Linked DNA regions of Homo sapiens: all the other regions are linked to region 1. The links come from fine-mapping of genetic effects on gene expression. A gene starts in region 1. Each other region holds a variant in brackets. All regions are shown on one strand. Distances are between the middles of the regions.

Region 1 (8,135 bases):
AGGTTGGTCTTGAACTCCTGAGCTCAAGGGATCTGCCCACCTTGGCCTCCCAAACTGCTAGGATTACAGCTGTGAGCCACCGCACCCAGCCAAAATTTAGGCTTTTTTTAAAAAGTGAGATAACATGCCTGCCTGCACCGCAGAGCTATGAAGTCCAGGTCAGGGGTGTGGGGAGGACGGGGTTCCCCAGGTGAGTCTATGTAAGCGGGATGAAGCCACAACTCCCTTTTCCTGGACTAGTGAAATGAAGCTGGGACACCATCATCAGAAGAGATTCTCAGGGGGAAGCCAGGAGTCCCAGCTCCACCTACGCTATGCTCCCTGGAGCAAGGCGCCTTCCCCTCCTCTGGCCTCGGTCATCTTACCTGTAATATGAGGCTAAAGGGTCGGGCATGGTGGCTCACACCTGTAATCCCAGCACGCTGGGAGGCTGAGGTGGGTGGATCATGAGGTCAGGAGTTCAAGAGCAGCCTGGCCAACATACTGAAACACTGTCTCTACTAAAAATACAAAAATTAGGTGCGGGTGTGGTGGCGGGCGCCTGTAGTCCCAGCTACTTGGGAGACTGAGGCAGGGGAATTGCTTCAACCTGGGAGGCGGAGGTTGCAGTAAGCCAAGACTGCGCCACTACACTCCAGCCTGGGTGACAGAGGAAGACTCCATCTCAAAGAAAAAAGAAAAAGCCAGGCATGGTAGCTCACGCCTGTAATCCCAGCACTTTGGGAGGCTGAGGCGGGCAGATCACCTAAGGTCGGGAGTTTGAGACCAGCCTGACCAACATGGTGAAACCCCATCTCTACTAAAAATACAAAAATTAGCCGTGTATTTTGGCTGACACCTGTAGTCCCAGCTACACAGGAGGCTGAGGCAGGAGAATTGCTTGAACCTGGGAGGTGGAGGTTGCAGTGAGTCGAGATCGCACCACTGCACTCCAGCCCGGGTGACAGAGGGAGACTCCGTTTCAAAAAAAAAAAAACATGGGGCTAAAGGTCATGCCTGTCTTATGGGCTGCTTTCCTGGGGAATTCTGGTGTGAGCCTAAGAACCTGTGGCCTTGAGTCTGAGCATCTTTTCCCAGAGGAATGAGGCCCCACCTCCTGGTGGCCTTGCTTCGATGTCCCCTAAGCAGAACCCAGCAAAATGATGATGTTTTGCAAGCACTAGATCTGGAGTCCAGATTGGGTTCTTTCCATTTTTTTTTTTTTGTTTTTTTTTTTGAGACGGAGTCTCGCCCTGTCGCCCACGCTGGAGTGCAGTGGCGCGATCTCAGCTCACTGCAAGCTCTGCCTCCCCGGTTCACGCCATTCTCCTGCCTCAGCCTCCCGAGTAGCTGGGACCACAGGCGCCCGCCACCACGCCTGGCTAATTGTTTGTATTTTTAGTAGAGATGGGATTTCACCATGTTAGCCAGGATCGTCTCGATCTCCTGACCTCATGATCCGCCCGCCTCGGCCTCCGAAAATGCTGGGATTACAGGCGTGAGCCACCATGCCCGGCCTTTTTTTTTTTTTGAGACAGAGTCTTGCTCTGTCGCCCAGGCTGGAATGCAGTGGCGTGATCTCAGTTCAGTGTAACCTCCATCTCCCAGGTTCAAGCGATTCTCCTGCCTCAGCCTCCAGAGTATCTGGGAATACAGGTGCCCGCCACCACGTCCGGCTAATTTTTATATTTTTAGTAGAGGTGGGGTTTCACCATGTTGGCCAGGCTGTTCTCCAACTCCTGACCTCAAATGATCCGCCCACCTCAGCCTCCCAAAGTGCTGGGATTATAGGCGTGAGTCATCCTGCCCAGCCCAGAATGGGTTCTAATCCCAGCTTGGCAACTCACTAGGAATAGGAGTTTGGGAAGGCAGCATCCCCTAGGAGTCTTGCTTGCCACATCTGTGAAATGTGTATAAGTGTTTCACAAGAGCCTGGAGTCCCTGTGGACTGGAGGAGACGCTGCTCCGGGGAAGCTCAGATCCGTGCCCGGCACATAGTAAGTGCTCCATAAACTATCTCACCGCACTCTGGCTTCCACGGACAAAGGGGTAAAGCCAGCCAGGAACCAGCTTCCTGCTAGGTACAAAAGTCCCCCAACTGGGAAGTCAGGTGAGAAGACATACCTACCTCCCAGTGATCATTGCCTAAATCTGTGCTTCTCCTCACCTCCTTTGGAGCCTGAGCTCACCTGGGCAGGGGGCCAGGTAGGCAGGCATCAAACTCCTGGCCTCGACCGATTCTCAAGTCCCACTTAGGACTCAGGCAGCTTCCTCCCGTCCCCTCTGTCCACCATGACTTCCTGGAACTGGTTTAAGCAAGGGTGGCCATGGCAGATGTCAACACCCTATGAAACCCCTGGGGGTCAGTGACCTGCCTTGCCGCTGGCTCCAGAAGGGGAGCTCCAGGCCAGACCCAGCCATCCAGCAACTTCAGAGCATGCTAAGACTGGACTTCCAAAATTCCAAGGGCCCCAGGTCCCACTGCCAGGCCTAGCCGGGACAAGAACCCCAAAGCAGTTAACGGATAGGCCTTCCTACTTTTAAGCCACCTCGTCGCCACGCCCACCCGAGGGAAGTGGGCAGGCTTTGCCCAAGACCTCCCCAGAATCAGTTGGGGGCGCCAGGAGCTGGGGCAACCCCCACCCCCACCCGTGGCAAAACCATCTGTAGGGGAGGGGGCTTTGCGGTGGCGGGGGGTGTCTCTGAAAACCCCAGAAGGGAGGGCGGAGATTCTGCCCGCAGGAGGAAACTTGCCTGCAAATGGCGTTTCCAAAAGCAAACTGTTCAAAATTTAGAGAAAACCTGGTGGGCGGGGGGCGGTATTTAGCCCACCCCCTTCAATATCACCCCTTCTACGGGGCTCTTTCGCCCCTCAAAAGTCCCAGGAAGTGAGAAGAGGGTTTCAAAGTCTGAGCTTCGTTGCAGAAGTTGGATTTTTCTGGGGGGAGGGGTGACCAGCCTGGGCTGAAGACCCCTCCCCAGGCCGCAGAGTCCAGCAAATCCCACCCCGAGAAAGGCCCTCCCCGACCCCTCCGGCCCCTGGGGTGCCCCAGGACTCCATGGACACCGCCCCCCAGCTCAACTGAGACGCCCCCGCCACTCACCGCGGTCAACCGGACGTCCCAGGAACAGCTGCCGCGACTTCAAAACCAGCTTGGAAACCGTCCGGGCCGAGGCGGGGGTGGCTTTTACTGCGTGGTAGGTTGGGGGCGCACTGGAGTGACGGGCGAGGGGACCAATCAGGTTGAGGGATTGCCCGCGCCAGGCCCGCCCCTCTCCTCCCTGCCCCGCCTCCACTAGGCCCCGCCCCTCGCCAAGTCATGAAGTCCGGGAAGGACTCCACGCCCTGCCCCTGAAGGGGAGGGAGCACTCTTGGACCACGCCTGTCCCAGCCACGGGACCCCCGCTCCGCAGCTGGGGACCCTGTGAAGTTGGCCCTGGGAGGTGAGTGCGATCGGGGGCGCCGCACAGGTGCTGGGATTCCCCAGGTCGCCCATTTCCCCTATGGCCAAACTGAGGCTGCGAGAACCCTGGGAGAGTTGCAGGGTGACCCTCGCCAGCGCGTCAGGGGCCACGCCCTCCACCATGGGCTCCGACTCAGCTATATGTACACACACACACACACACACACACACACACTTTTTTTTTTTTTTTGAGACACAGTCTCGCTCTGTCGCTAAGGCTGGAGTGCAGTGACGCGACCTTGGCTCACTGCAGCCTCCACCTCCTGGATTCAAGCGATTCTCCTGCCTCAGCCTCCTGAGTAGCTGGGATTACAGACACGTGCCACCACGCCCGGCTAATTTTTTGTATTTTTAGCAGAGACGGGGTTTCACCATGTTGGTCTTGAACTCCTGACCTCAAGTGATCTGCCCGCTTGGGCCTCCCAAATTGCTGGGATCACAGGTATGAGCCACCGCACCCGGCCCAACCCAGCTATATGAGTGACTTGAACCACCACGGGAACTTGTCCAGCCTCCGGCCTGATCTGCCCAACATCAGACCACTTCATCCTCCCAGCACTGTATTGTCTTTTTAATCATCCCTATTTTGCAGAGAAGGAAACTGAGGCCTGGAGAGGGTCAGCCAGGGGCAATGGAGGGGTCAGGCTCCAGGCTCTGTGACTGCTGGATCAACCTTTTCCTGAAGCTGCCCCCACTTGGATTTTACCCCGCCCCTCTCCACCTCCCAAATTATTTATCCTCTTGGTCTATAAACCAAGGTCTCAATCTCAGATGGTCCAGGGAGGAGGTGAATATTTCTGCTGAGGAGGTGGCAGTGATGCCCTGCTTAGAGGGGCAGGGGAGAGCAGTGCCCTATGGGAGACCCACCTGGAGAGTCACAGATCCACAGGAAGTTCAAGCTGTAGACATGTCCTGCCTGTTAGGGAACAATTGGACCAAATGAAACCCAACTGGGGCTTTGTCCAGCCCAGGGGCCACCAGTTTGCCACCTCTGCCAAATTATTTGAATAGAATGAAGCTTCTGGTAGCTTTAGAAAGAACATGGGAAAAATTGGGTGTCTGTGACTGCATTTTTTTGGGGGGGTGAGTGGGGACAGGGTCTATGCTAGCACTGTCCAATAGAACTTTCTGCAATTCTAGAATTGTGTGCCATCCAACATTGTAGCCAAAAGCACCACGTGGCTAATGCACAGTGAGAAGCTGAATGTTTAAATTTTTTTTTTTTTTTTGAGGCAGAGTCTCGCTCTGTCTCCCAGGCTGGAGTGCAATGGCGCGATCTCGACTCACTACAACCTCCACCTCCCGGGTTCAAGCGGTTCTCCTGCCTCAGCCTCCCAAGTAGCTGGGATTACAGGCGCGCGCCACCACACCCAGCTAATTTTTGTATTTTTAGTAGAGACGAGGACTAACCATATTGGCCAGGCTGGTCTCGAACTCCTGGCCTCAAGTGATCCACCTGCCTCGGCCTCCTAAAGTGCTGGGATTACAGGTGTGAGCTACCGCGCTTGGCCTGAATGTTTAAATTTAAGTAACTTCAGGCAGCTAGTGAGATTCTCAAGTGAATCTGAGACCCCATTCCATGACATTTGTAACAGGCTTTTTCCTTCTCATTCACTCATTCAACCATATTTATTGAGTCCTTGCGCTGGGGACAGCGGTGAGCTAAACAGATAAGAATTCCAGCCCTGGTGACACACACTACCCAGTGGGAGAGACGAACAAGGAACAACATAAGTGAGAGAACTTTACAATGTGTCACGTGGTAGGACAGCAAAGGACGAGATGAATGTGGGGGATGCGGGGATTTTGTTCTTGTTTTTTGTCAAAGAGTCTCACTCTGTCACCCAGGCTGGAGTGCAGTGGCACGATCTCGGCTCACTGCAACCTCCGCCTCCCAGGTTCAAGAAATTCTTGTTCCTCGACCTCCCAAGTGGCTGGGATTACAGGCCTGTGCCACCATGCCTGGCCAATTTTTGTATTTTTTTTTTTTTTAGTAGAGACGGGGCTTCACCATGTTGGCCAGGCTGGTCTCGAACTCCTGACCTCATGTGATCCACCAGCCCTGGCCTCTCAAGGTGCTGGGTTATAGGCATGAGCCACCACACCCGGTGGGGCCGCAGTTTTTAGTAGGGAGGTCAGAGGAGGCCTTTCTGAGTGACATCCAAGAAGAGAAGAGAGAGAGGCCAGGAGGGAACCATGTCCAGTTAGGGGGAACAGCATTCCAGGCAGCAGGCACAGTCCGTGCAAAGGCCCTGAGGCAGGACCACACCCTGCCTGTTAGAACAGTGAGGAGGCCCCAGTGGCTGGAGTACAGTGAGTGAGAGAGAGGGAGGAGGGGAGGGCTGGGATGGCTCAGAGAGGGGAAGTGACTCATCCAAGATTCAAGGTCAGTGGGAGATTTGCCTGTTAACCCTTAACTTCTTAGTGGCCTTGAGTAACAAAATAGCTCTGGTCTAGGGGATGAGCCCTGGTGATTTTGCCCCACACCGTTTTTTGTTGTTTTTTTTTTTTGAGACAGAGTCATCTCCCAGGCTTTTGGTTCTTCTTGATGGCAACATCTGCCCAGGAGTCCCCGCCTGGCCTCCCACAGCCCTAGGGTGAGAGGTAAGAAATAGCTACTGTTGGCTGGGCGCAGTGGCTCACGCCTATAATCCCAGCACTTTGGGAGGCCGAGGTGGGCGGATCACCTGAGGTCGGGAGTTTGAGACCAGCCTGACCAACATGGAGAAACCCCGTCCCTACTAAAAATACAAAATTAGCCAGGTGCGGTGGCGCATGCCTGTAATCCCAGCTAGTCAGGAGGCTGAGGCAGGAGAATCACTTGAACCTGGGAGGCAGATGTTGCAGTGAGCCAGATTGTGCCATTGCACTCCAGCCTGGGCAACAAGAGTGAAACTCTGTTTCAAAAAAAAAAAAAAAGAAAAGAAAAGAAAAAAAGAAATAGCTACTGTTGGCCGGTGGCTCACACCGGTAATCCCAGCACTTTGGGAAGCCAAGGCGGACAGATCACTTGAGCTCAGGAGTTCAAGACCAGCCTGGCCAATATGGCAAAATCCTGTCTCTACCAAAAATACAAAATTAACCGGGTATGGTGACGCATGCCTGTAATCCCAGCTTCTCCACAGGCTGAGGTGGAAGGATCGCTTGAGACTGGAGGGGTGGAGGTTGCAGTGAGCCAAGATTGCACCACTGCACTGCAGCCTGGGTAGCAGAGCAAGACCCTGTCTCAAAACCAAAAATGAGATAGCTGCTGTTTTCTGGGCTATTTCATTACATTATTCAGCAGCCTGATTCCCATTTTCTTTTATTATTTATTTATTTATTTATTTTCGAGATGGAGTTCTGCTCTGTCGCCCAGGCTAGAGTGTAGCCGTACGATCTCGGCTCACTGCAACCTCTGCCTCCCGGTTTCCAGCAATTCTCTGCCTCAGCCTCCCAAGTAGCTGGGATTACAGGAGCCCACCACCACGCCTGGCTAATTTTTTGAATTTTTAGTAGAGATGGGGTTTCACCATGTTGGCCAGGCTGATCTTGAACTCCTGACCTCGAGATCCACCCGCCTCTGCCTCCCAAAGTGTTGGGATTACAGGCGTGAGCCACAGCACGTGGCGCTATTTATTTATTTACTTCTTCTTATTATTATTATTTGAGTCGGAGTCTTGCTCTGTCACCCAGGCTGGAGTGCAGTGGCGCGATCTCAGCTTACTGAAAGCTCCGCCTCCCGGGTTCACGCCATTCTCCTGCCTCAGCCTCCCGAGTAGCTGGGACTACAGGCGCGTGCCACCACACCCAGCTAATTTTTGTATTTTTAGTAGAGATGAGGTTTCTCCATGTTGACCAGGCTGCTCTCAAACTCCTGACCTAAAGTGATCCGCCCACCTCAGCCTGCCAAGGTAAACCAACTGTGATTTCTGTTTTCTGGATCAGGAAACTAAGGATCAGAGAGGCAGAGTAACTTGCCCCAGGTCACACAGCCAGAAATTGCCAGCCCCAGGGTTTGAACCTTGAGTTATGTGTCTTTAAGGTCTTTGGTTTCTGTTTGTTTTGGGGTTTTTTTGTTTTGTTTTGTTTTTGAGAGAGTCTCACTTCGTCTGGAAGTGAGGCTGGAGTGCAGCGGTGGGATCTCAGCTCACTGCAACCTCCGCTTTCCAGGTTCAAGCAATTCTCCTGCCTCAGCCTCCTGAGTAGCTGGGATTACAGGTATGCGCCACCACACCCGGCTAATTTTTGTATTTTTAGTACAGACAGGGTTTTGCCATGTGGGCCAGGCTGGTCTCGAACTCCTGACCTCAGGTGATCCACCCACCTCTGCCTCCCAAAGTGCTGGGATTACAGGCATGAGCCACTGCGCCCAGCAGGTCTTTGTTTTTGACATTTTCTACTCTTTCTCTTCTTTCCTTCCCTCTGCATCCCCTCCCAATTCTAGGACTCCTAATTCTTTCTTTTTTTTTTTTTTTTTTTTTTTTTTTTTTTTTGAGACGGAGTCTCGCTCTGTCACCCAGACTGGAGTGCGGTGGCTGGATCTCTGCTCACTGCAAGCTCTGCCTCCCGGGTTCACACCATTCTCCTGCCTTAGGCTCCCAAGTAGCTGGGACTACAGGCGCCCGCCACCAAGCCCGGCTAATTTTTTGTATTTTTAGTAGAGACAGGGTTTCACCATGTTAACCAGGATGGTCTCAATTTCCTGACCTC
Region 2 (8,135 bases), 340 kb after region 1:
CATTGTATTCTTTTAATGAGATGTTAGATTTCCATTGCTGAAATTTTCTTGGCCTTTTTGCATCTAGGCACATAAGTGGAATGTGCTTTTTTCCTCCTTAGTTTGTCCTCGTACAGTTTAGGTACCATCTCTTTTTTCACCTCATAAGCTGACAGTTGACAAAAGGTGCAAATCATCTCTTCCTTGCGGATTTGGCAAAACTCACTTGGAAAACTATCTGGGAAGGTGCCTTGTATGGGGCATAGATCTTTACTATCACTTCACTATTTTCTTTCTCTCTCTCTCTTTTTTTTTTTTTTTTTTTTTTTGAGAAAGGTCTCTCCATCACCCAGGCTAGAGTACAGTGGAATGATCACAGTTCACTGCAGCCTTGATTTCCTGGGCTCAGGTGATTTTTCCACTTCAGCCTGCAGAGTAGCTGGGACTACAGGTGTGTGCTACCATGCCTGGCTAATTTTTTGTATTTTTGGTAGAGATGGAGCTTTGCCATGTTGCCCAGGCTGATCTTGAACTCCTGGGCTCAAGTGATCCGCCCACCTCAGCCCCCAAAGTGCTGGGATTACAGGCATGCACCACCACACCCTGCTAATGTTTGTATTTTTGGTAGAGATGGGATTTCACAATGTTGGCCAGGCTGGTCTTGAACCCCTGACCTCAGGTGATCCACCTGCCCCAACCTCCCAAAGTGCTTGGATTATAGGTGTGAGCCACTGCACCCAGCTTCCCCATCTTTTTCTCTCTTCACTGTCTGTTCTTACAACTATCCTATGGAGGGAGAGAAGGGGATTTTTTGCATACCAGTTCTGCTACCGGTAGCCTCCACTGCCCCTGTCTGTTTCCTCCTTGGCTCTCCCAATACTCATCTTACCAAAAAAAAGAAAAAAAAAAGGTTTCATCTCTAAAGTGTTCTATCCCCACTTTTCTGATATTATTTGTACTTTCTCTTTTTTATTATCTTTGCCTAAGGTTTTTGGAGTTTTCAAAGAAAAGGTTTTTGATCTTGTCAATGCAAAAGAGCCATATCAAAATGCCCAATTAAGAGTTATTTCCAGGCTGGGTGCAGGGGCGCACGCCTGTAATCCCAGCACTTTGGGAGGCCAAGGCGGGTGGATTACCTGAGGTCAGGAGTTCACCACCAGTCTGACTAACATGGTGAAACCCCATCTCTACTAAATACAAAAAAAATAGCCGGGCATGGTGATGGGTGCCTGTAATCCAAACTACCTGGGAGGCTGAGACAGGAGAATCACTCTTACCTGGCAGGTAGAGGTTGCAGTGAGCCGAGATCCACCATTGCACCCCAGCCTGGGCAACAAGAGTGAAACTCTTGTCTCAAAAAAAAAAAAAAAAAAAAGTTATTTCCATCTTTATCTTCATTTTTTTTTATTTGGGGTTTTTTTTTCTATTTGAGTTTATTTTCTAGTGATTTGATTGAAAACTTGGTTCATGAACTTTTTAAAGTTGACTTATTTTCAAAATTTCTTTTCTTATAAGTGTGTTAAAGAGGCCAGGCACAGTGGCTGGTGCCGGTAATCCCAGCACTTTGGGAGGCTGAGGTAGTAAGATTGTTTAAAGCCAGGAGTTCAAGACCAGCCTAAGCAACAAAGTGAGACCCTCCTACCTCAAAATAAAAAAAGGGTAAATGTGTTCAAGGCTATGAATTTTTCTCTGAGCACACCATTGGCTGCATCCCGCAGGTTATGCATTTCATGATGTACTATTTGAATTGTTCAATTTGAAACACTTTGTAACTTTCACATTGATTTTTTTTTTTTCAGAGGCAGTGTTTCCCTATGTTCACCCCAAAGTGCTGGGATGATAGGCATGAGTCACTGCGCCCGGATTACATTGATTTAACACATACCTTATTTAGAAATGTGTTTTAAGGCTGGGCACGGTGGCTAACACCTGTAATTCCAACACTTCGGTGGGAGGCCGAGGTGGGCGAATTACTTGAGGTCAGGAGTCTGAGACCAGCCTGGCCAACATGGTGAAACCCTGTAACCCTGTCTCTACTAAAAATACAAAAAAAAAAAAAAATTAGCTGGGTGTGGTGGTGGGCGCCTGTAGTGCTACATACTCAGGAGGCTGAGGCAGGAGAATCGCTTGAACCTGGGAGATGGAGGTTGCAGTGAGCTGAGATTCAGCCACTCCAGCCTGGGCAACAGAGCGAGACTCTGTCCCCCACCCACCTCCCCGCCAAAAAAAGTATTTTAAAATTTCCCTCCCCCTTCCAGGGGAGGCTAATTACTCTTCAGAGCCAAGATCAGGATACCTCATCTAATATTTGTTTCTTGGAATTTGTGAAGATCTCTGTTAATATTTTTTGTTTGTTTTTTTGAGATGAAGTCTTGCTCTGTCACCTGGGCTGGGGTGTAGAGGCGCGATCTCAGCTCACCGCAACCTCCTTCCTCCTGGGTTCAAGCGATTCTCCTGCCTCAGCCCACTGAGTAGCTGGGATTACAAGCGTGTGCCACCATACCCAGCTAATGTTTTTTATTTTTAGTAGAGACGGGGGGTTTCACCATGTTGGCCAAGCTGGTCTTGAACTCCTGACTTCAGGTAATCCTCCTGCCTCGGCCTCCCAAAGTGCTAAGATTACAGGCGTGAGCCACTGCACCCAGCCGATCTCTGTTAATTTTCACAAATGTTCCATGTGCGTTTGAGAATGTTAGAGTAGGAGGGGATAATAGGGTTTGTTAAATATTTTTGGCCAAGCTTATTAATGATGTTAGTCACATCTGTATTTTTTTGACTACCTGATCTGTTGCTTCTTTTTTTTTTTTTTTTTTTTTTTTTTTGAGACGGAGTCTTGCTCTGTCACCCAGGCTGGAGTACAGTGGTATGGTCTTGGCTCACTGCAACCTCTGCCTCCCAGGTTCAAGGGATTCTCCTGCCTCAGCCTCCCAAGTAGCTGAGAATACAGGCTCCTGCCACCATGCCCGGCTAGTTTTTTGTACTTTTAGTAGAGACGGTGTTTCACCATGTTGGCCAGGATGGTCTCCATCTCCTGACCTCGTGATCTGCCCGCCTCAGCCTCCCAAAGTGCTGGGATTATAGGCGTGAGCCACTGCGCCCGGCCTTGATCTGTTGGTTTCTAAGAGACATAGTCCTATTCTTCCCTGAGCTGGGTCCCTGGTGTCACTAAGATCACCCCTTCTCATTCCTGGAACTTCCCTGAGGTCATAGGGGGCTCTTTCATCCTATCTCTGGCTCCTGTGGGTGGCTTCTATGCCCAAGCAAGAAGTGACTCAGGCAAGGGTATAGATACAAAATGGCTCACTCTCCATCCCCAGGGATGTGATTCTGGCTCAGTGCATGGATCTGCTCATTGAGTGGCCTAGGGGTGGAGCAGAGTGTCCCCAACCTGTTGCTTCCCTCCACGGACTCAGTTCTTCCCCAGGGCACTTCGAGAAGGCAGCACCGTGTGATGCTCAGGGCTGCGGGTGAGATGGGCTGGGGTACGAATCCCAGCTCCACCTCAAACTCATTGTGTGCCCCTCCCTGAGCCTCAGTTTCCTAATATGTAAATGGGGATTTTTTTTTTTTTTTTTTTTTTTTTGGAGATGGGAGTCTCATTCTGTCGCCCAGGCTGGAGTGCAATGGCATGATCTCAGCTCACTGCAACCTCCGCCTCCTGGGTTCAAGTGATTCTCCTGCTCCAGCCTCCTGAGTAGCTGAGATTACAGGCAGGTGCCACCATGCTTGGCTAATTTTTGTGTTTTTAGCAGAGACAGGGTTTTGCCATGTCGGCTAGGCTGGTCTCGAACTCCCGATCTCAGGTGATCCATCTGCCTCGGCCTCCCAACGTGTTGGGATTACAGGCGTGAGCCACCGCGCCTGGCCAAGGGGCTGGTAACTTCTATCTCAGAGTGTCTGGCCCATGGTGAATTCTCAGTCATGGTCACTTATTAGAATGAGAACACGAGGCAGCCCCTACAGGACCAGGGCTTGGGTTCAAATCTTGGCCTGGCCACTTCATCGGTGTTTTGAGTTTTTTTTTTTTTTTTTTTTTTGAGACAGTCTTACTCTGTCACCCAGGTTGGAGTGCAATGGCATGATCTCAGCTCACTGCAACCTCTAACTCCTGGGTTCAAGCGATTCTCCTGCCTCAGCCTCCTGAGTAACTGGGATTACAGGCGCCCGCCACTGCGCCTGGCTAATTTTTGTATTTTTAGTAGAGTTGAGTTTCACCATGTTGGCCAGGCTGGGTTTCACCATGTTGGCCAGGCTGGTCTCAAACTCCTGACCTTGTGATCCACCCGCCTCAGCGGTGTGTGGTCTTGGACAAGCACCACCACCTCTCTGGGCCAACTCCTCCTCTGACTGTTCACACAAGGAAACGAGATCAGCTCTCCAGGACCCCACCGACCTCCACCCCAGGGATGAAACTGGACAGGCAGGGGCGCAACAAAGACTCCACAATGGGCCGGGGTCAGACGATCTTCCTTTAATACAAAGTCGATATATCTACATACACGGGGGTGGGAAAACCACCCGGCTGCTTCCGCTGGAATAAACAGTGTTGAAAGTAACCGCAGACCTGCCCTTGTACAAAGAGGAACAACTCGCTT[G/C]CTCAGGGTAGGCGGGTAGAGGGGGGCCTGTCCTTCTGGTTTTGCTCCCAAACTGCCCCACAGTCCCAGGGGGAAAGGGTCCCTGATGTGGGGCAGCACAGCCATACAGCCACTGTCCCCGAAGAAGTAGGATCCTCTCTGTCTCCTTGGGGGCGGGAGACGGGGAGACAGCTCAGGCTCTCAGAGGAGGACCACTGTCATCTCTCTCCTCTTACAGCAGCGTCCCCCTCAACCGCACCCAACGCCACTGGGTCCGAGCTCCCCCATGACCTTACCCTCAGAACTGTATTTGATATGTCTGAAAATTTAATTTATAAAAATGAAACAAAAAGGGGGAAAAAAAAAGCCAAGAAAGAAAAAAGGACATCCCATTCTTCTGTGAGCAAAGCACACTTTCTGATGGTAGGAAAAATTAAAAAAAAAAAAAAAAAAAAAAAAGCCAAGGTACAGCCATGGGCCTGGCGTGCGCGTTTGCGAACGTAACTATCACACAAGGACGCTTTCTACAGTGAAAAAATAGACTGTCTTTGAACAGAATATGAATAAGCCAAAGTTAGTTCTCTTTGAAAGTCATTGACTGGCGAGTCTTTTGTTTGTTTCTCTTAAAAAAAAAAATGGAAAAAAAAATACACTATTTAAAAAAAATGAAATGTCACGGGATACAGTTACACTGAGAGTTTTAAAAGAAAGCTGGATTCTGGTCCCAGCCCAGTGTCCCCAGGCTGCAGAGCGGGGAGGAGCCCCCCGGGTCCCCCTACCACCGCTGGGGGAGGACGAGGGGTCCGTCTATGGTCTGTGCCCCACCCTCCTCTGGTTCTGGGGAGCACTCCTATTTGCTCACCATCCCCCCACCCCCCACCCCGGAATCTGGTTTTGGAATTGGAAGGAAAGGAGGAATGTGCCAAGTATTTGAAGGCGGCGGCCGGTGCCAGGGAGGTCGCTGGGGCGGCCGGGGCCGGTGGGGGGGCTCGAGGGGCTGCGTCGTCCTCGGAAATGGTGCAGAAACACAGCTGCTGCCGCTGCCACCTCCTGCCCTGCCCACTGGGGGTCCAGGCCTCAGGAGGTCCGCCCGGGAGGGGCAGAGGCATCCGGGGCCAGTGGTGTCGGGCCTGGGGGGAACCATGGCTTTAGGTTGCATAGTGGTCAAAGCTTCCGAGGTACTCCAGTGCCGCCTGGTAACAGAACTGGTACTCATCCTGGGGGAGCAGAGGTGACCTGTTAGTACCTCCGCTGCTCTAACGCCTCCCAGGGCTCCCTATCGCCCTCAGGAGCAGGCCAAGCTCCTCAGCCTTGTGCGTGTCTCTTGCAGAAGGTCTCTTTGGCCCCCACGGCCCTCCCACAATGAAGTGAGCTATGCCACACCTCTCTGCCTAACACAGCCAGGCTCTTCACCCGGAACGCCCTCTCCTCCCGTCTGCCTGGAGGCCCTATTCATCTTTTCTTTTTTATTTATTTTGAGACGGAGTCTCGCTGTGTTGCCCAGGCTGGAGTGCAGTGGCGCCATCTTGGCTCCCTGCAACCTCTGTCTCCTGGGTTCAAGTGATTCTCCTGCCTGAGCCTCCCAAGTAGCTGGGATGACAGGCGTGTACCACCATGCCCAGCTGATTTTTGTATTTTTAGTAGAGACAGGGTTTCGCCATGTTGGCCAGGCTGGTCTCAAACTCCTGACCTCGGGTGATCTGCCTGCCTTGGCCTCCCAAAGTGCTGGGATTACAGGCATAAGCCACCACACCCAGCCTCATTTCTATTTTTTTTGTAGAGATGGGGTCTTTCTGTGTTGCCCAGGATGGGCTCAAGCGATCCTCCCACCTCAGCCTCCCAAAGTGCTGGGATTACAGGTGTGAGCTGCCACGCCGGGTCCCCTCTACTCATCTTTTAAGACATGGCTGCTGTTCAGAACCCCCTCCACTGGAACATTCCCCTTGAAGCTAGGAGTCTGGGCCTCAGTTTCCCCATCTGTACATTGGTTGGACTTGGGGGTCAGTGGTTCTTGGCAGGGTCCAGGCTGAGCCACAGACTTGCTGTGACTTGGGGACTGCAATGAGCCCATCTCTGTCCACTCCAAGGGCCACTTCTCGCCTTTGACCTTCAGCTGACTGTTGTGTTAAAAGGGTTACTGGTCCCCTTCCAGTGCGGGAGGGGTCTGTGGACCGTCTACCCACAGTGACCCAGAGAGTCCCAGGTGGCTGTACCCATCTCACAGAGGAGGAAACTGGAGCTTAGGGGCAGTCGGGGCGTGAGGCCAGGCTGCCTCCCCTCCCTGTCCCATCTTTACCTCTGTCTGCACCATGGCCGGCCGCTGGGTTCGTAGCATCTTCACCGTCTGAAAGATGTCCACCACGCCTTCATACCGCATCCGCTCCAGCACGATGCTAAGCGTGATGAAGACGCCCGTCCTGCCCACGCCGGCACTGGTGGCAGTAAAGTGAGCACAGCCATTCAGGGGCAGGTGCTGGGGAGCCCTGATCTGACCACCCGATTCCCCGAGGACTCTAACAGCCCAGATGGGACAGCCTAAGCTTGGGGCTGTCCCCACCAGGCCTCAGTTTCCCCAGCAGGGCCAAAAGCTGGGACACTCGAGGGAGCTCACCTGCAGTGGACAGAGATGGGGCCGTCCTGGCCAAACTGCTCCTTAGTCTTATGCACTTGGCCAATGAAGTCGATGAAGCCCTCCCCCGACTTTGGCACACCCTGTTCCGGCCAGTCTGTGAACTGGAACTGCCGGACAGTCCGGGACTGGCCATCCTAGAGTGCAGAGAGCCCAATCTTGTTATCAGGTCAGCAGCGGCCATGGGGGTTTTTCTCCATCCTCCCTATCTTCACCCCCATTTTTTGTTTGTTTGTTTGTTTTTGAGATGGAGTTTCACTCTTGTCGCCCAGGTTGGAGTGCAATGGCGTGATCTCGGCTCACTGCAACCTCCACCTCCAGTGATTCAAGTAATTCTCCTGCCTCAGCCTCCCGATTAGCTGGGATTACAGGCATGAGCCACCAGGCCCGGCCCTCACCCCCATTTTGTACACTCTCTGCCATTCATTTACCCTGACAACTTACCGTCCTTCACAATCCAATGGTACTGCTTTCCATAAGAGATGCTCCAACCTCATCCTCACCACTTCTTGCCACCCAGCTGTTCCTCTCCCCACATTTCCTGTATGACATCCAGCACCTCCATCCTCCATCCTTTGCCATCCCATAGTGCAACCAGCTCTGCCCTTCCCAGCTCCTATTCACCATGATCCTCTGTCATCTTCCACTCTGTGCCATTTCGGGGCCCTACAGCACAACTCAACTCCATCACTGTCCATAGCTCATCAATGATGACTCATCTTCTACAACCCAATGGTGCCATCATCTTTCATCGTCCACCATCCAACACCATCATCTTCCACCATCCAATAACAGTGCCACTGCTACCACCCACTGCTGGTAACTCACTACCTTCTGCCGTCCCGAGTTCCACCCAACACCATCATCTTCCATCATCCACCACCATCCCCTCTTGGTAACTCATCCTTAACCATTCAGTGATGGCATCTTCCACTGACTGTCTTCATTCCCCA
Region 3 (8,000 bases), 83 kb after region 1:
CAGGTGCTTGCCACCTCGCCTGGCTAATTTTTGTATTTTTAGTAGAGATGGGGTTTTGCCATGTTGGCCAGGCTGGTCTCGAACTCCTGACCTCAGGTGATCTTCCCTCCTCGGCCTCCCAATATTGGTATTACAGGCATGAGCCACTGCGCCTGGCTGATAGTAGGTATCTTAATGCTGGGCCTGGTGGCTCACGCCTGTAATTCTCGCGCTTCAGGAGGCCGAGGCTCGAGGATACCTTGAGTTCAGGAGTTCAAGACCAGCCTGGGCAAGGTAGTGAGACAACCCATCTACAAAAAGTAAAAATAAAAAAATTAGCTGGGTGTGTTAGCATGTGCCTATAGTCACAGCTAGTCAGGAGGCTGAGGCAGGAGGATCACTTGAGCCCAGGAGGTTGAGGCCGCAGTGGGCTGAGATTGCACCACTGCACTCCAGCTTGAGCAACAGACTGAGATCTTGTCAAAAAAAAAAAAAAAAAAACCCCTCCAAAATAGATTGCTTCAGCTATGCAGGTCACACAGTCTATTCAGAGAACCTCTTCAGCTCTTGTGTCGTAGCACAAAATCAGCCATAGACCATATGTAAGTGAGTGAGCATGGCTGTGTTTCAGTGAATTTTATTTGCAAAAGTATGTGATAGGCCAGAATTTGCTTGGCCCCTGATTACAGGATGGGGGCGGACTTTTCCAGCATAAAAACCATCATAAAGCCCAAAGGAAAAGACAGATTTGATTATCTAAACATTATAAATATATTACATAAATAAATCCTATAAATTAAAAGGCAGATGACTAGGAGGAGTTCTTGACATGACACATGATGATAGTGTCTTTATCATATAAAGAGCTGTTGCAAATCAACAAGAAACTCATAGAAGAGCTGGGTGCGGTGGCTCACGCCTGTAATCCCAGCACTTTGAGAGGCCGAGGTAGGTGGTGGATCACCTGAGGTCAGGAGTTCAAGACTAGCCTGGCCAACATGGTGAAACCCTGTCTCTACTAAAAATACAAAAATTAGCTGGGTGTGGTGGCAGGCACCTGTAATCCCAGCTACTTGGGAGGCTGAGGCAGAATTGCTTGAACCCAGGAGGCGGAGGATGCAGTGAGCCGAAATCATGCCATTGCACTCTTGCACTCTAGCCTGGGTAACAGGAGTGAGACTCTATCTCAAGAAAGAAAGAAACTCGTAGAAGAAAGCAAAGAGGCCAGGCGTGGTGGCTCACGCCTGTAATCCCAGCACTTTGGGAGGCTGAGGTGGGCGGATCACGATGTCAGGAGATCGAAACCATCCTGGCTAACATGGTGAAACCCCATCTCTACTAAGAATACAAAAAAAAAAAAAAAAAAAAAGCCTGGTATGGTGACAAGTGCCTATAGTCCCAGCTACTCGGGAGGCTGAGGCAGGAGAATGTCATGAACCTGGGAGGCGGAGCTTGCAGTGAGCCAAGATTGCTCCACTGCACTCCAGCCTGGGTGACAGAGCAAAAAAAAAAAAAGAGAATATGGAAATAATGCACAAAAGAAGTGCAAAGTTGTAATCAAATACAAACTGAGGCTGTGGTGAGATACTATTTGTTTCCCCTATAAAGTTGGCCAAAAATTCTAAAATGTTGACATAGGTCAGGGGTAAAATAGCATTCCACTGTTGGTAGAAATACAAATTGGAACCATCTTTCTGGAAATCTCTTCTGCCTGTTTGTATGAAGAGCTTTATAAATGATCTATTCTTGTCACTCTAACTCCGCTTTGAAAAATGTCTTTAGGAGACCTCTGGCTAGGTAAAAATGTAAGATGTAATGTTTTTCATACCATTATCTAAAACAATTGGCACATAGACACACACACACACACACACACACACACACACTCTCACAAAGTCAGTAACTAAGTACCTAAAAAAGACATGGGCCATGGGTGGTGTGTCACATGCCTGTCGTTCCAGTACTTTGGGAGGCTGAGGTGGGAGGATTGCTTGAGGCTAGGAGTTTGAGACCTACTTGTGCAACATAAAATTATGAAAAATTAAAATTACAAAAAAGAATTTCAAAAAAGTTAGCTGGTTATGGTCGTGTGGGCCTATAGTCCCAGCTTGGGAGCCGGAGGTGGGAGGATGGCTTGAGCCCAGGAGGCTGCAGTGAGTAAGGCGTGATCATGCCATTGCATTCCAGCCTGGGTGACAGAGTGAGACACCCTTTCTCTTTTTGTTTGTTTTTTTTTTATATGTGTGTGTGCTTTGTTTTGTTTTTTTTGAGGCAGGGTCTCCCTCTCTTGTCCAGGGTGGAGTGCAGCAGTGTGATCGTAGCTCATTGTAGCCTCCACCTCCTTGGGCTCCACTGATCCTCCCACCTCAGCCTCCAGAGTAGCTGGGACTATAGGTGCATGTTACCACGCCTGGCTATTTTTTTTTTTTTTTGTGGAGATGGGGTTTTGCCACGTTGGCCAGGCTGGTCTTGAACTCCTGGGCTCAGGCAATCCTCCTGCCTTGGCCTCCCAGAGTACTGGGATTAGAGGCGTGAGCCACGGCACCTAGCAACCCTGTCTCAAATAAATAGTAGGCTGGGTGTGGCCTATTTTATAAATTATACATATATAACTTTGAAATATTAAATTTTTTTTTTTTTTTGAGACAGAACCTCACTCTGTCACCCAGGCTGGAGTGCAGTGGCATAATCTCGGCTCACTGCAACCTCTGCCTCCCAGACTCAAGCGATTCTCCTGCCTCAGCCTCCTGAGTAGCTGGAATTACAGGCACGCGCCACCACGCCCGGCTAACTTTTGCATTTTTAGCAGAGACGGGGTTTCACCATGTTGGCCAGGCTGGTCTCGAACTCCTGACTTCAGGCGATCTGCCTACTTCAGCCTCCCAAAGTGCTGGGATTACAGGCCTGAGCCACCACTCCCGGCTCCTGTGTTTCCTTTTTTGGGGGGTACATCCTCACCTATAATGCGTGGGGTCCTGACTCTCCCTGCAGGGCGCTGGCTCTCAACTGCTTTGCTCCCATCAATGACCAAGAAGGGGCCGAGGCCAAGGACTGGCGGTCGGGGAAGCCGGTCAGGGTGGTGCGCAATGTCAAGGGTGGCAAGAATAGCAAGTACGCCCCCGCTGAGGGCAACCGCTA[C/T]GATGGCATCTACAAGGTGAGTGCCCCTTGAGGAGGCCGGGGGCTCTGTCCCCGCCGGGGCTGCCTCTGATGGAGCTGACGCTGATGCCCGCTCTCTGCAGGTTGTGAAATACTGGCCCGAGAAGGGGAAGTCCGGGTTTCTCGTGTGGCGCTACCTTCTGCGGAGGGACGATGATGAGCCTGGCCCTTGGACGAAGGAGGGGAAGGACCGGATCAAGAAGCTGGGGCTGACCATGCAGGTGTGTCTGGGATGGGGGATGGCACTTTGGGAGGCCAAGGCGGATGGATCACTTACGTTAGGAGTTCAAGACCAGCCTGGCCAACATGGTGAAACCTCATCTCTACTAAAAATACAAAAATTAGCTGGGTATGGTGGCGGGTGCCTGTAATCCCAGCTACTGAGGTGGCTGAGGCAGGAGAATTGCTTGAACCCAGAAGGTGGAGGTTATAATGAGCTGAGATTGCGCCACTGCACTGCAGCCTGGGTGACAGAATGAGAGTCCATCTCAAAACAGGAGCACTGCCGGGCTCCATGACGGCTCTGACACTTCCCGCCTGGGCACCATGTGTCCTGCTTGGAGGCTGTCATCCTTGAAGGTCATTGTGGGTCACAGAATGGGCCCTGCCTGGGCTTGTGGTGCTCATGTTCTGGACCGCGCTGAACACTCCAGGAGGCCTCCCGTCTCGGGCCCATGCTTCCCTGGTTTCTCTCTGATCCAGAATAATTTCCAGGGCCCCAGCTGATGGCACCCCCCTAGCTGTCCCATATAAATCCTCCAGCCAGGGGGTGATGGGAACGCGCAGATGACATTTGCTTCTCCGCCTGCCGCATCTCAGAGTTGAAAACCAGACTTGCTTGTCTTCGTTCTGTTGGTAAAGGGATCGCTGCAGACCAGTCAGGCATCTGGTGTCTTCTGTTTTCACTTCTTGGCTCATCACAAAAAAAAAAAAAAAAAAGCAGAAACAAACCAACCAAATTGGTGGATTCCAGAGAGATCTGGACGGAAAAATGGGGAAGATGAATATCCCCGAGCCATCTCTCACCTCCCTGTGGCGATGGGAACTGCCGAGAACTTACTCAACAAGCGGCGCAGCATTTCAGCACCAGTTAGGATGTGGTCTGTCCATTGCAGGGAGAAGCTTTACAGCAGACGAATCGTGAGACTATTTAAGGAATCTTAATTGCTGTCGAGAGCCTGATGTCCTCTACCCGAGGGGGTCACTCAGGTTGTCTTTTGAATGGATTTGTACGGTGGGGAATTTCAGAAGCTGAGGAAGTAGAGAGAAAAATAGTAATGGGAGAGACAGCCTCAGCTTCTGTTGGGAGTAGGATTTTTTTTGTTTGTTTGTTTTGAGATGGAGTCTTGCTCTGTCGCCCAGGCTGGAGTGCAGTGGTGGGATCTCGGCTCTCTGCAACCTCTGCCTCCCAGGTTCAAGCCATACTCCTGCCTCAGCCTCCTGAGTAGCTGGGATTACAGGTGCCCACCACCACGCCTGGCTCAGTTTTTGTATTTTTAGTAGAGACGGGGTTTCACCATGTTGGTCAGGCTGGTCTTGAACTCCTGACCTCAGGTGATCCACCCGCCTCTGCCTCCCAAAGTGCTGGGATTACAGGCGTAAGCCACCGCTCCCAGCCTTTTTTTTTTTTTTTTTTTGGAGACAGAGTCTCACTCTGTCGCCCAGGCTGGAGTGCAGGCATGATCTCGGCTCATTGCAACCTCCACCTCCCAGGCTCAAGCGACTCTCTCATCTCAGCCTCCTGCATAGCTGGGATCACAGGTGTGTACCACCATGCCCAGCTATTTTTGTATTTCTAGTAGAGACGGGGTTTCGCCATGTTGGCCAGGCTGGTGACCTCAGGTGATCCACCTGCTTCCACCTCCCAAAGTGCTGGGATTACAGGTGTGAGCCGCTGACCCTGGCCAGGATTTTTTTTTTTTTTATGACTCTCATCTCCATTGTAACATAAAGAATGTGAAAGGAGCTCAAAGATTTCCTGAGACACTGGAGAGTCAGACGTGACTTATAGGTACCTTCGAAATGGAGCGATGATGCCCTGTGAGGACAGAGAGGGCCCGAGTCCTCAGAATCACCAGAGTTTGGCCAGCTAAGGCCCTGGGGTCAGGTGTTCGTAAGTGAAGTTTCTGGGGAAACAGTCATGCTCATTCACTGAAGTAGCCTGCTCTCAGCGCTTGCAGTCCAGACCCATAAGGCTTGAAAACATTCACCCTAGGGTCCCTGGAAGCAAAAGTTTGCCTGCCCTCATGGAAATCGTAAAGACAACGAGATCTTATTGGTGGGATGTGATGCTGAACACGTCACCCGCGTTCGCTCACATTAAATGCGCTTACCCCGACCCTGCCAGGTGGAGCTTGGCCGATTATCTCCTCTTAGTCTCCTCTTGTTCGTAGTGAAGCTTTGCGATTAGACAGGATTAGCCATTGGTCGAGGCTCCACAGTTAACGAAGAGCTGAATGCACAGGCGTCCCCCCCTTACCAGGGGGACACTTCGAAGGTCCTCAGCACATGCTTGAAACCAGAGAGTACCAAACCGTTGATGTATAATTTTTTTTCCATACGTTTGGACTGGTGATTAAGTTTAATCTATAAATTAGGCACAGTATGAGATTCACAACCTCTCTTTCGCATCTTAGGCTTCTCTTTAGCATTTCCAAATTGTCAGCATCCCTACTCTTGCACTTTGGGGCCATTATTTTTATTTTTGAGACCAGGTCTCGCTCTGTTGTCCAGGCTGGAGTGTAGTGGTGTGATCATAGCTCACTACAGCCTCAAACTCCTGGGCTCAAGTGATTCTCCTGCCTCAGGCTCCTAAGTAGCTGGGACTACAGATGCACACCACCAGGCTCGGCTAATTTTTTAAATTTTTTTGTAGAGAGGGGATCTTGCTATGTTGCCCAGGCTGGTCTCAAACTCCTGGGCTCAAGCGATCCCCCTGCCTTGGCTTCCCAAAGTGTTGGGCTTATTTAATAAAAATTAGAATGTTTAATATTAATATTTTATATTTAGCCTGTAATCCCAGCATTTTGGATGACTGAGGCAGGTGGATCACTTGAGGTCAGGAGTTCAAGACCAGCCTGGCCAACATGGTGAAGCCCCATCTCTACTAAAAATACAAAAATTAGCTGGGTGTGGTGGCGGGCACCTGTAATCCCAGCTACTCGGGAGGCTGAGGCAGGAGAATCGAGAAGCTGGACAAAGGGAAGGTTCACATCCCTGTGGGACGATGCAATGTTTCATCATGCAGTGTGCGTGATGTGAGGTGGCTGTAAAGGGGGAGGAAGGGGCCCCGAGCCGAGGGATGCAGCGCCTCTAGACGTTGGACACTTAGAACAGTGTGCAGTTTACAACTTAGGAATTGTTTCTAGAATATTTCATGTAACATTTTCAGTTGACTTTGGGTCACTGAAACCTCAGCAAAACTAGATAAGGGAGGACTACCCTGTGCTCTTCAGGGGGATTGGGGGTCAGGTGTGTCTGGAAACCCAGACCTGGCAAGGAGGCTGGAAGAGCGGGCTCTGCATAGCGTGTGGGCCCCAAGCCTGACTCACGGCTGTCCCTCTTCCTCCTGAAGTATCCAGAAGGCTACCTGGAAGCCCTGGCCAACCGAGAGCGAGAGAAGGAGAACAGCAAGAGGGAGGAGGAGGAGCAGCAGGAGGGGGGCTTCGCGTCCCCCAGGACGGGCAAGGGCAAGTGGAAGCGGAAGTCGGCAGGTGAGAATCTCGTGGGTGTGGGGTGAGCGTCTTGTGTGTGGGGGAGCAGGTGGGCATCTCGCGGGTGTGGGGTTGAGGTCGTGTGGACGTGGGAGCCGGTGGCTGTCTCTCCGGCAGCTCGGGCCACGCGCCCCTCCCTCACGCGCCCCACCCTCTTCCAGGAGGTGGCCCGAGCAGGGCCGGGTCCCCGCGCCGGACATCCAAGAAAACCAAGGTGGAGCCCTACAGTCTCACGGCCCAGCAGAGCAGCCTCATCAGAGAGGACAAGAGCAACGCCAAGCTGTGGAATGAGGTCCTGGCGTCACTCAAGGACCGGCCGGCGAGCGGCAGCCCGGTAGGCTCGCACGGCTCACTCGTCGCCCTGATTTGCGTTGACTGCGGTAAAATGTGTGGGGCTTGTTTCCCATGTTCCCCATTTTCAAGTGTACAGCTCAGTCGCACTGAGTACATTCTTGTGGTTGTGCAACCATCACCACCATCACCACCTCCAGAACTTTATCCTCTCCCCAGACTGAAACCCTGGCCCTGAAACTGTCACTCCCACCCCCTCCCAAGCCTTGGCACTCGCTCCCCAGCCCCGGCAACTGCTCCCCAGCCCCTGCACCCGCTCCCCAGCTCCGGCACCCCCTGCCATCCTACCTTCTGTCTCTGTCTCCCGGGGCTGTTGCAAAGTGACCCCAAGCCTAGGAGTGCAAAGCGACTCACATCTCACAGCTCTGGGGCTGGGAGCCCGACATGGGCCTTGCTGGGCTAAAGTCAGGGCAGGGATAGGGCTGGGCCCTCCTGGGGGCTCCAGGGGAGAACCAGATTTCTGCCTTTCCCAAGGTCTAGAGGCACTGTATCCCTCGGCTCGGGGCCCCTTCCTCCCCCTTTACAGCCACAGCGCATCTTCTTCCAGTCTCTGAGTCTCACTCTCCCGCCCTCTCTCGGGAGGACCTCGGGGTGACATCAGGCCCCCCGCCTCACCCAGGATGCTTTCCCAGCTCCAGGTCCTTCACTCAGTCCCACCTGCCATTTCTCCTCTGCTGTGGATGGTGACGTCTCAGGATGGTGCAGGTCTCAGGATTCAGCTGTGGCCGAGGCCATCTCAGTGGTCCCTCTCTTCCCATTTCCTTCAGGCCACATTCTTCCCAGGGCTTTCTCCCCAGCTCC
Region 4 (8,135 bases), 29 kb after region 1:
GAGATCGCGCCACTGCACTCCAGTCTGGCGAAAGAGCAAGACTCCGTCTCAAAAATAAATATATATATTATAATAATATAATATATATTATATTATTAGAATATATATAATATATTATTATATATAATATATTATAATAATATAACATATTATATATATATTATATATATATAGCCAGGCGCAGTGGCTCACACCTGTAATCCCAGCACTTTGGGGGGCCGAGGCAGGAGGATCACCTGAGGTCAGGAATTTGAGACCAGCCTGGCCAGCGTGGTGAAACCCCATCTCTACTAAAAATACAAAAGTTGGCCGGGTGTGATGGCACGCAACTGTAATCCCAGCTACTCAGGAGGCTGAGGCAGGAGAATCACTTGAACCTGGGAGACTGAGGTTGCAGTGAGGCTGAGATCCAGCCCTGCACTCCAGCCTGAGCAACAGAGTGAGACTCTGTCTCAAAAAAAAAAAGAAAAGAAAAGAAAAGAAAATGCTTGTATTCCACCAAATGGATTTTTGCAACCCACGACTGGGTTGTGACCTGTGATTTGAAAAACATTGCTGGCTGGGCATGGTGGCTCATGCCTGTAATCCCAGCACTTTGGGGAGGCCAAGGGGGGAGGATCACTGGAGCCCAGAAGTTCAAGACCAGCCTGGGCAACATAGTGAGACCCTGTCTCCAAAAAAAAAAAAAAAAAAAAAAACCAAAAAGGAAGGCCGGGTGCGGTGGCTCACCCCTGTAATCCCAGCACTTTGGGAGGCCGAGGTGGGTGGATCACGAGGTCAGGAGATTGAGACCATCCAGGCTAACAGGGTGAAACCCCATCTCTACTAAAAATACAAAAAAAAAAAAATAGCCAGGCGTGGTGGTGGGCACCTGTAGTCCCAGCTACTTGGGAGGCTGAGGCAGGAGAATGGCGTGAACCCAGGAGGCAGAGGTTACAGTGAGCCGAGATAGCGCCACTACACTCCAGCCTGGGCGACAGAGCAAGACTCTGCCTAAAAAAAAAAAAAAAAGAGGAGAAGAAGAAGAAAGAAGAAGAAGAAGACAGCCGGTGCGGTGGCTCACGCCTGTAATCCCAGCACTTTGGGAGGCTGATGCGGGTGGATCACGAGGTCAGGAGATTGAGACCATCCTGGCTAACACGGTGAAACCCCGTCTCTAATAAAAAATACAAAAAATTGGCCGGGCGCGGTGGCTCACGCCTGTAATCCCAGCACTTTGGGAGGCCGAGGCGGGCGGATCACAAGGTCAGGAGATCGAGACCATCCCGGCTAAAACGGTGAAACCCCGTCTCTACTAAAAATACAAAAAATTAGCCGGGCGTAGTGGCAGGCGCCTGTAGTCCCAGCTACTTGGGAGGCTGAGGCAGGAGAATGGCGTGAACCCGGGAGGTGGAGCTTGCAGTGAGCCGAGATCCCGCCACTGCACTCCAGCCTGGGCGACAGAGCGAGACTCCGTCTCAAAAAAAAAAAAAAAAAAAAAAAATTAGCCGGGCATGGTGGTGGGTGCCTGTAGTCCCAGCTACTCGGGAGGCTGAGGCAGGAGAATGGCATGAACCTGGGAGGCAGAGCTTGCAGTGAGCCGAGATCGCGCCACTGCCCTCCAGCCTGGGCGACAGAATGAGACTGTCTCAAAAAAAAAAAAAAGAAGAAGAAGGAGAAGGAGAAGGAGAAGAAGAAGAAGAGGAAGAGGAAGAGGAAGAGGAAGAAGAAGAAGAAGAAGAAAATCATACTGCAGGAAGTCAGGTATGTTTCCTTTTTGAGAACTCAGGCAGACCCTTGACCCCCTCTGACCTCACCTCCCACTTTTCTGCCTCTGGCTTCTCTTCAGCCTTTTCAGGAGCAGCTGGAGCTCCCCCTCCTCTCCTGAAGGTTAATTGAATCTGGTTACATTGTAAATCCCTGCAGTCTTATTCGAAAATTCGTAGCATGCGTTAGGACCCTGCAGGTGTGAAAGAACCTGCTGCCCTAACTCCAGACAAAGCTGGTATTTCTGTCCTGGTCCTGAAGGAGGTATCAGGAGGTGCCAAGAGCTACCAATGTCCCTTATTTCCAAATGAGCTATTACATTTTTTTTTTAATAGCGGTACCGGCTAGGAGCGGTGGCTAACGCCTGTAATCCCAGCACTTTGGGAGGCCTAGGCAGGCGGATCACCTGAAGTCAGGAGTTTAAGACCAGCCTGGCCAACATGTGGAAACTCCGTCTTTACTAAAAAATACAAAAATTAGCTGGGCGTGGTGGTGGGTACTTCTCATCCCAGCTACTCGGGAGGATGAGGCAGGAGAGTCACTTGAAGCTGGGAGGCAGAGGTTGTATTGAGCCAAGATTGCGCCACTGCACTCCCGCCTGGGTGACAAAGTGAGACTCCGTCTCAAAAAAAAAAAAAAAAAAAAAAAAAGAAAGAAAGAAAAAGGAAAAAAAATGCCAGCCCTCTGACATTTGTCGTCCTGTCCCAATGCTCTGATGACAAATGACTCCCTGGAGATGTGAAGTGACTTTGGCCAACGTCCCTCCTCCCACCTCGACTTCCGCCTCTGCACCTGGACTCGGGAAGGGATCCAGAACGAGTCCTTCACTCAGCCAAGCGGAGGCTGCACTGCCCGTCCTTCTCCTGGACTGAGGCCACCACCTCTATTGTCTGGGAGCTCCAAGGTCAGTGCTGGAGGGCCACTGAGTGTACATGCCTCTCTCCCACCCTGAGGGTCACCCTGTGGGGCCTTTTCTTGGCTTTTCCCCAGGGTCGTGTCTCCCTCTTGACAAGTGGACATTTGGGCCATTCTCCTGGGTGGGGCCGTCCTGGGCACTGCAGGGTGCTGAGCAGCGCCCCTGGCCTCCACCCACTCCATGCCAGGAGCACCCCCCAAGTTGAGACAACCACAGATGTCTCCAGACATTGCCAAATGTCCCTTATGGGGATAAAACAGCCACAGTTGAAAACCACTGGCTTAGTTCCTGCCCTTGTTTCTTTTCTAAAAAAAATGTTGGCCTGGCATGGTGGCTCACGCCTGTAATCCCAGCACTTTGGGAGGCCAAGGCAGGCGGATCACCTGAGGTCGGGAGTTTGAGACCAGCCTTGCCAACATGGCGAAACCCTGTCTCTACTAAAAATACAAAAATTAGCTGGGCATGGTGGTGCACATCTGTAATCCCAGTTACTCAGGAGGCTGAGGCAGGAGAATCGCTTGAACCTGGGAGGCGGAGGTTACAGTGAGCCGAGATCATGCCTCTGCACTTCAGCCTGGTGACAGAGCGAGACTGCATCTCAAAAAAAAAAAAAAA[A/AT]ATATATATATATATATATATTTTTTTTTTTTTACACACACACACACACACACACACACACACACACACACACACACATATATATAATTTTATTTTAGAGACAGGGTCTCACTCTGTCGCCCAGGCTGGAGTGCAGTGGTGCAAACATGGCTTACTGCAGCCTTGACCTCCAGCTGCCCTAAGGTTTCTGACTCACCTTTTGTGAAATCTCGGGGCCTGGGAAGCTGCCAACACCCTTCCCTTCTCCCCATGGGACCTTCTCTGTCCCCTGCCTGCCCACCTTCCCTCTTCCTCCTTGGAGCTTGGAGATTGTTCCCACCTCCACCTTTCCCCCATCGGTACCTGGAATGGGGTTTCTTTGTGGAAGGTGGAAGTTCCTTGAACCAATAAGTACATCCTCTTCTTGGCTAAAATGTGTTCCCTGCCCATGCAGGAAGCTTGTACGAAATAGAAGACATGGCCAAATTTGCTGGTGAAGGTAGAAGGAAGCCTGGGAGGTAAGTTGAAATGGAAGTCAAAGGTGTGGCTGCCTGCACTTAACCAATTATCTGAAAGCAAAACACACCGATGCCATCAGAAGGTTCTAGAATCTTTTTTCCTTCTTCTTCTTTTTTTTTTTGCTTTATTTTTATATTTATTTATTTTTGAGACACGGTCTCACTCTGTCACCCAGTCTGGAGTATAGTGGTGTGATCTCAGCTCACAGCAACCTCTGCCTCCTAGGTTCAAGCGATTCTCCTGCCTCAGCCTCCTGAGTAGCTGCGACTACAGGCGTGCACCACCACACCTGGCTAATTTTTATATTTTTGACAGAGATGGGGTTCTGTCATGTTGTCCATCCTGGTCTTGAACTCCTGGCCTCCGGCGATCCGCCCGTCTTGCCCTCCCAAAGTGCTGGGGTTACAGGCGTGAGCCACTGCACCTGGCCTTTTTTTGCTTGATTTATTGTTTTGGCATGGAGGTGGGTCCTGGGCTTGGCTTGTCTGTCCCTCCTGAGTTAAACTGAGCTCTATGCTTTTAGGACCTGCTGGGCCTATAAATATCAGGTCGCAGCTGGGCTGGAGTGGGATGCCCTGGGGTGGGTGACATGCCTGGAGTTGTCACCCGAAACCACTGAAGGGCTCTTGCATATCCCTGCCCTGAGCCTGAGAAAGTGGAAGTCAGGCCTTCAGGGTTCAACAAATATATCTTTTTTTTTCTTTTTGTAGGGACAAAGTCTGGCTCTGTTGCTTAGGCTGCAGTGCAGTGGTGTGATCATGGTCACTGCAGCCTCCAACTCCTGAGATCAAGTGATTCTCCCACCTCAGCCTCCAGAAGAGCTGGGACTACAGGCCCATGCCACCATGCCTGGCTAATTTTTAAATTTCTGGTAGAGACAGGGTCTTGCTATGTTTCCCAGGCTGGTCTTGAACTTCTGGCCACAAGCAGTCCTCCTGCCTCACTCTCCCAAAAGTGCTGGGATAATAGGCACAAACTGGCTGGGCCCAGTGGCTCACGCCTGCAATCCCAGCACTTTGGGAGGCCAAGGCGGGCGGATCACCTGAGGTCAGGAGTTTGAGACCAAGCTGGCCAAAATGGCGAAACCCAATCTCTACTAAAAATACAAAAATTAGCCGGGTGTGGTGGCACACACCTGTAGTTCCAGGTACTCAGGAGGCTGAGGTGGGAGGATAGCTTGAACGTGCGAGACGGAGGTTGCAGTGAGCCGAGATCATGCCACTGTACTCCAGCCTGGGTGACAGAGCGAGACGCCATCTCTAAAAATAAATAAATAAATAAACAAAGTAGTATGTGAGGCAGAGAAAACTTTCGCCCTCATAGAGCTTGACCTTCAGTGCATGGTATACAGTGGGTGCTTAATACATATTGATTGACCAACTGAGTGATGGTCTAGGAAGCAGACTCTCACACAACTGCCATTTCCATGACCTTTGTTTCATTTTCCTTCTTGCACTTCTCGAAAATCCTCTTAGCATTTTCTATCTTCTCTGGCCCATGGCAATCCCAAAGATACTAGGGACCCTGTCTCTTTCTTTCTTTTTTGTTTTTTTGAGACAGAATCTCACTCTGTCACCCAGGCTGGAGTGCAGTGGCGTGATCCTGGCTCACTGCAACCTCCGCCTCCTAGGTTCAAGCAATTCTCCTGCCTCAGCCTCCTGAGTAGCTGGAATTACAGGTGTGTACCACCATGCCTGGCTAATTTTTGTATTTTTAGTAGAGATGGGGTTTCACCATGTTGGCCAGGCTGGTCTCGAACTCCTGACCTCAGATAATCCACCTGCCTTGGCCTCCCAAAGGGCTGGGATTACAGGCATAAGCCATCAGGCGGGCTTGGCCTTTTTTTTTTTTTTTGAGACAGGGTCTCACTTTGTCACTCAGCCTGGACCTCTTGGGCTCAAGTGATCCTCTTGCCTCAGCGCCCCAAGTAGCTGGGACTACAGGCGCGTGTCACCACACCTGGCTAATTTTTGTATTTTTCATAGAGATGGGGTTTTGCCATGTTGGTCAGGCTGGTCTTGAACTTGTGACCTCAGGAGATCTGCCCACCCAGCCTCCCAAAGTGCTGGGACTACAGGCGTGAGCCACCGTGCCCGGCCCAGGCTGTGTTTTTTTCATCACTGCTGCATCCCCAGCACCTAGCACGGTGTTTGTGCACAGTAGGCACTCAATAAATGTTTATTAAATAAATGAAAAACCTGGAACAGGCATGGTGGCTCACACTTGTCATCCCAGCACTTTGGGAGGCCGAGGCGGGCAGATCACGAGGTCAGGAGATCGAGACCATCCTGGCAAACACGGTGAAACCCCGTCTGTAATAAACAAAATACAAAAAATTAGCTGGGCGTGGTGGCGGGTGCCTGTAGTCCCAGCTACTCGGGAGGCCAAGGCAGGAGAATGGCGTGAACCCGGGAGGCGGAGCTTGCAGTGAGCCGAGATCGCGCCACTGCACTCCAGCCTGGGCGACAGAGTGAGACTCCATCTCAAAAAAAAAATGTTTATTAAATAAATGAAAAACCTGGGATGGGCATGGTGGCTCATGCCTGTAATCCCAGCACTTTGGGAGGCTGAGGTGGGGCAGATCACCTGAGGTCAAAAGTTTGAGACCAGCCTGGCCAACATGGTGAAACCCTGTGTCTACTAAAAATACAAAAAATTAGTAGGGCATAGTGGCATGCGCCTGTAATCCCAGCTATGCAGGAGGCTGGGGCAGGAGAATTGCTTGAACCCAGGAGGTGGAGGTTGCAGTGAGCTGAGATCACGCCATGGCACTCCAGCCTGGGTGCCAGAGTAAAGACTGTCTCTTAAAAAAAGAACTAGCGGCCGGGCGCGGTGGCTCACGCCTGTAATCCCAGCACTCTGGGAGGCCGAGGCGGGTGGATCATGAGGTCAGGAGATCGAGACCATCCTGGTTAACACGGTGAAACCCCGTCTCTACAAAAAAAAAAAAAAAAAAAAAAAAATTAGCCAGGCGTGGTGGCGGGCACCTGTAGTCCCAGCTACTCAGGAGGCTGAGGCAGGAGAATGGCGAGAACCCGGGAGGCGGAGCTTGCAGTGAGCCAAGATTGCACCACTGCACTCCACGCTGGGCGACAGAGGAGACTCCGTCTCCAAAAAAGTAAATAAATAAAAGAAAAGAAAACAACTAGCAACATTTTTTTTTTCTGAGACTGAATCTCACTCTGTTGCCCAGGCTGGAGTGCAGTGGTGCAATCTTGGCTCACTGCAACCTCCGTCTCCCTTGGCCTCCCAAAGTGCCGAGATTACAGGCATGAGCCACCGCGCCCGGCCAGCAGTCTTTTTTTTCTGTTTCTTTCTTTTTTTTTTTTTTTTTTTTTTGAGACGGAGTCTCGCTTTGTTGCCCAGGCTGGAGTGCAGTGGCGTGATCTCGGCTCACCGCAAGCTCCGCCTCCCGGGTTCACGCCATTCTTCTGCCTCAGCTTCTTGAGCAGCTGTATTTTTTGTATTTTTAGTAGAGACGGGGTTTCACCATGTTGGCCAGGCTGGTCTTGAACTCTTGTCCTCTGGTGATCTGCCCACCTTGGCCTCCCAAAGTGCTGGGATAACACGTGTGAGCCACTGTGCCTGGCCAGAAATAGCAATTTTTAAGCATTTACTGTATACCTGGCATTATTCTAAGCGCTTTATGTGCCATTAAATCATTAAGTCCTTAACACAATCTTATGAAATAGGACCTCTTCCTACTCCCATTTTATAGATTGGTTAACTGAGAGCCAGAGAGGTCACATAATTGCTCAGTATTAGTGTCTGGTAAGTTGACATTTGTCCCCAGGATATTTGCATGGCTGGAGTCCCTCCTATCACTCAGTTCTGTGCTTGGTTGTTCCCTCTTTGCAGAGTACTCCTCTGGTGGAACAGACCATCTCATCTAAATTTTTAAAGTCTAAAATGGCCAGGTGTGGTGGCTCATGCCTGTAATCCCAGCACTTTGGGAGGCCAAGGTGGGCGGATCACCTGAGGTCGGGAGTTCAAGACCAGCCTGACCAACATGGAGAAACTCCGTCTCTACTAAAAATACAAAATTAGCTGGGAGTGGTGGCACACGCCTGTAGTGCCAGCTACTCGGGAGGCTGAGGCGGGACAATCGGTTGAACCCAGGAGGTGGAGGTTGCAGTGAGCCAAGATTACGCCACTGCACTCCAGCCTGGGCAACGAGTGAGATTCAGTCTCAAAAAAAAAAAAAATTGCTAGTTCTTTTTTTAAGAGACAGTCGTTTGAACCCAGGAGGTTGCGGTGAGCCGAGATTGCGCCATTGCACTCCAGCCTGGGCAGCAAGAGCAAAACTCCGTCTCAAAAAAACGAAAACAAAAAATAAACAAAAATTAGCCAAGCATGGTGC

The links. PIP is the estimated chance that this variant, and not a neighbour inherited with it, causes the effect.
Region 2: its variant is fine-mapped to the expression of PLIN3 in whole blood (TOPMed, PIP above 0.99).
Region 3: its variant is fine-mapped to the expression of PLIN3 in whole blood (TOPMed, PIP 0.94).
Region 4: its variant is fine-mapped to the expression of PLIN3 in whole blood (INTERVAL, PIP above 0.99).

Annotation. Positions count from the first base shown.
Region 1 is chr19:4,864,526-4,872,660 of GRCh38, forward strand. PLIN3 (perilipin 3) reads right to left here and starts at 3,142. Exons shown (of 8, transcript NM_005817.5): 1 at 3,084-3,142. RefSeq lists enhancers at 2,110-2,459, 2,402-2,902, silencers at 3,120-3,299, 5,723-5,887, 5,764-5,843 and a cis regulatory region at 5,556-6,042.
Region 2 is chr19:5,201,073-5,209,207 of GRCh38, forward strand. PTPRS (protein tyrosine phosphatase receptor type S) reads right to left here. Exons shown (of 38, transcript NM_002850.4): 36 at 7,165-7,319; 37 at 6,850-6,985; 38 at 4,436-5,770. The coding sequence ends at 5,702. Among named protein-coding and RNA genes, the nearest start is that of PTPRS-AS1, 27 kb to the left of the region's middle. The variant G/C (reference allele first, on the strand shown) is at 4,575.
Region 3 is chr19:4,947,641-4,955,640 of GRCh38, forward strand. It overlaps UHRF1 (ubiquitin like with PHD and ring finger domains 1), which reads left to right. Exons shown (of 17, transcript NM_001048201.3): 12 at 2,971-3,133; 13 at 3,219-3,356; 14 at 6,710-6,848; 15 at 7,010-7,182. Among named protein-coding and RNA genes, the nearest start is that of KDM4B, 17 kb to the right of the region's middle. The variant C/T (reference allele first, on the strand shown) is at 3,118.
Region 4 is chr19:4,893,052-4,901,186 of GRCh38, forward strand. It overlaps ARRDC5 (arrestin domain containing 5), which reads right to left. Exons shown (of 3, transcript NM_001080523.3): 2 at 3,620-3,825. Among named protein-coding and RNA genes, the nearest start is that of ARRDC5, 5.8 kb to the right of the region's middle. The variant A/AT (reference allele first, on the strand shown) is at 3,278.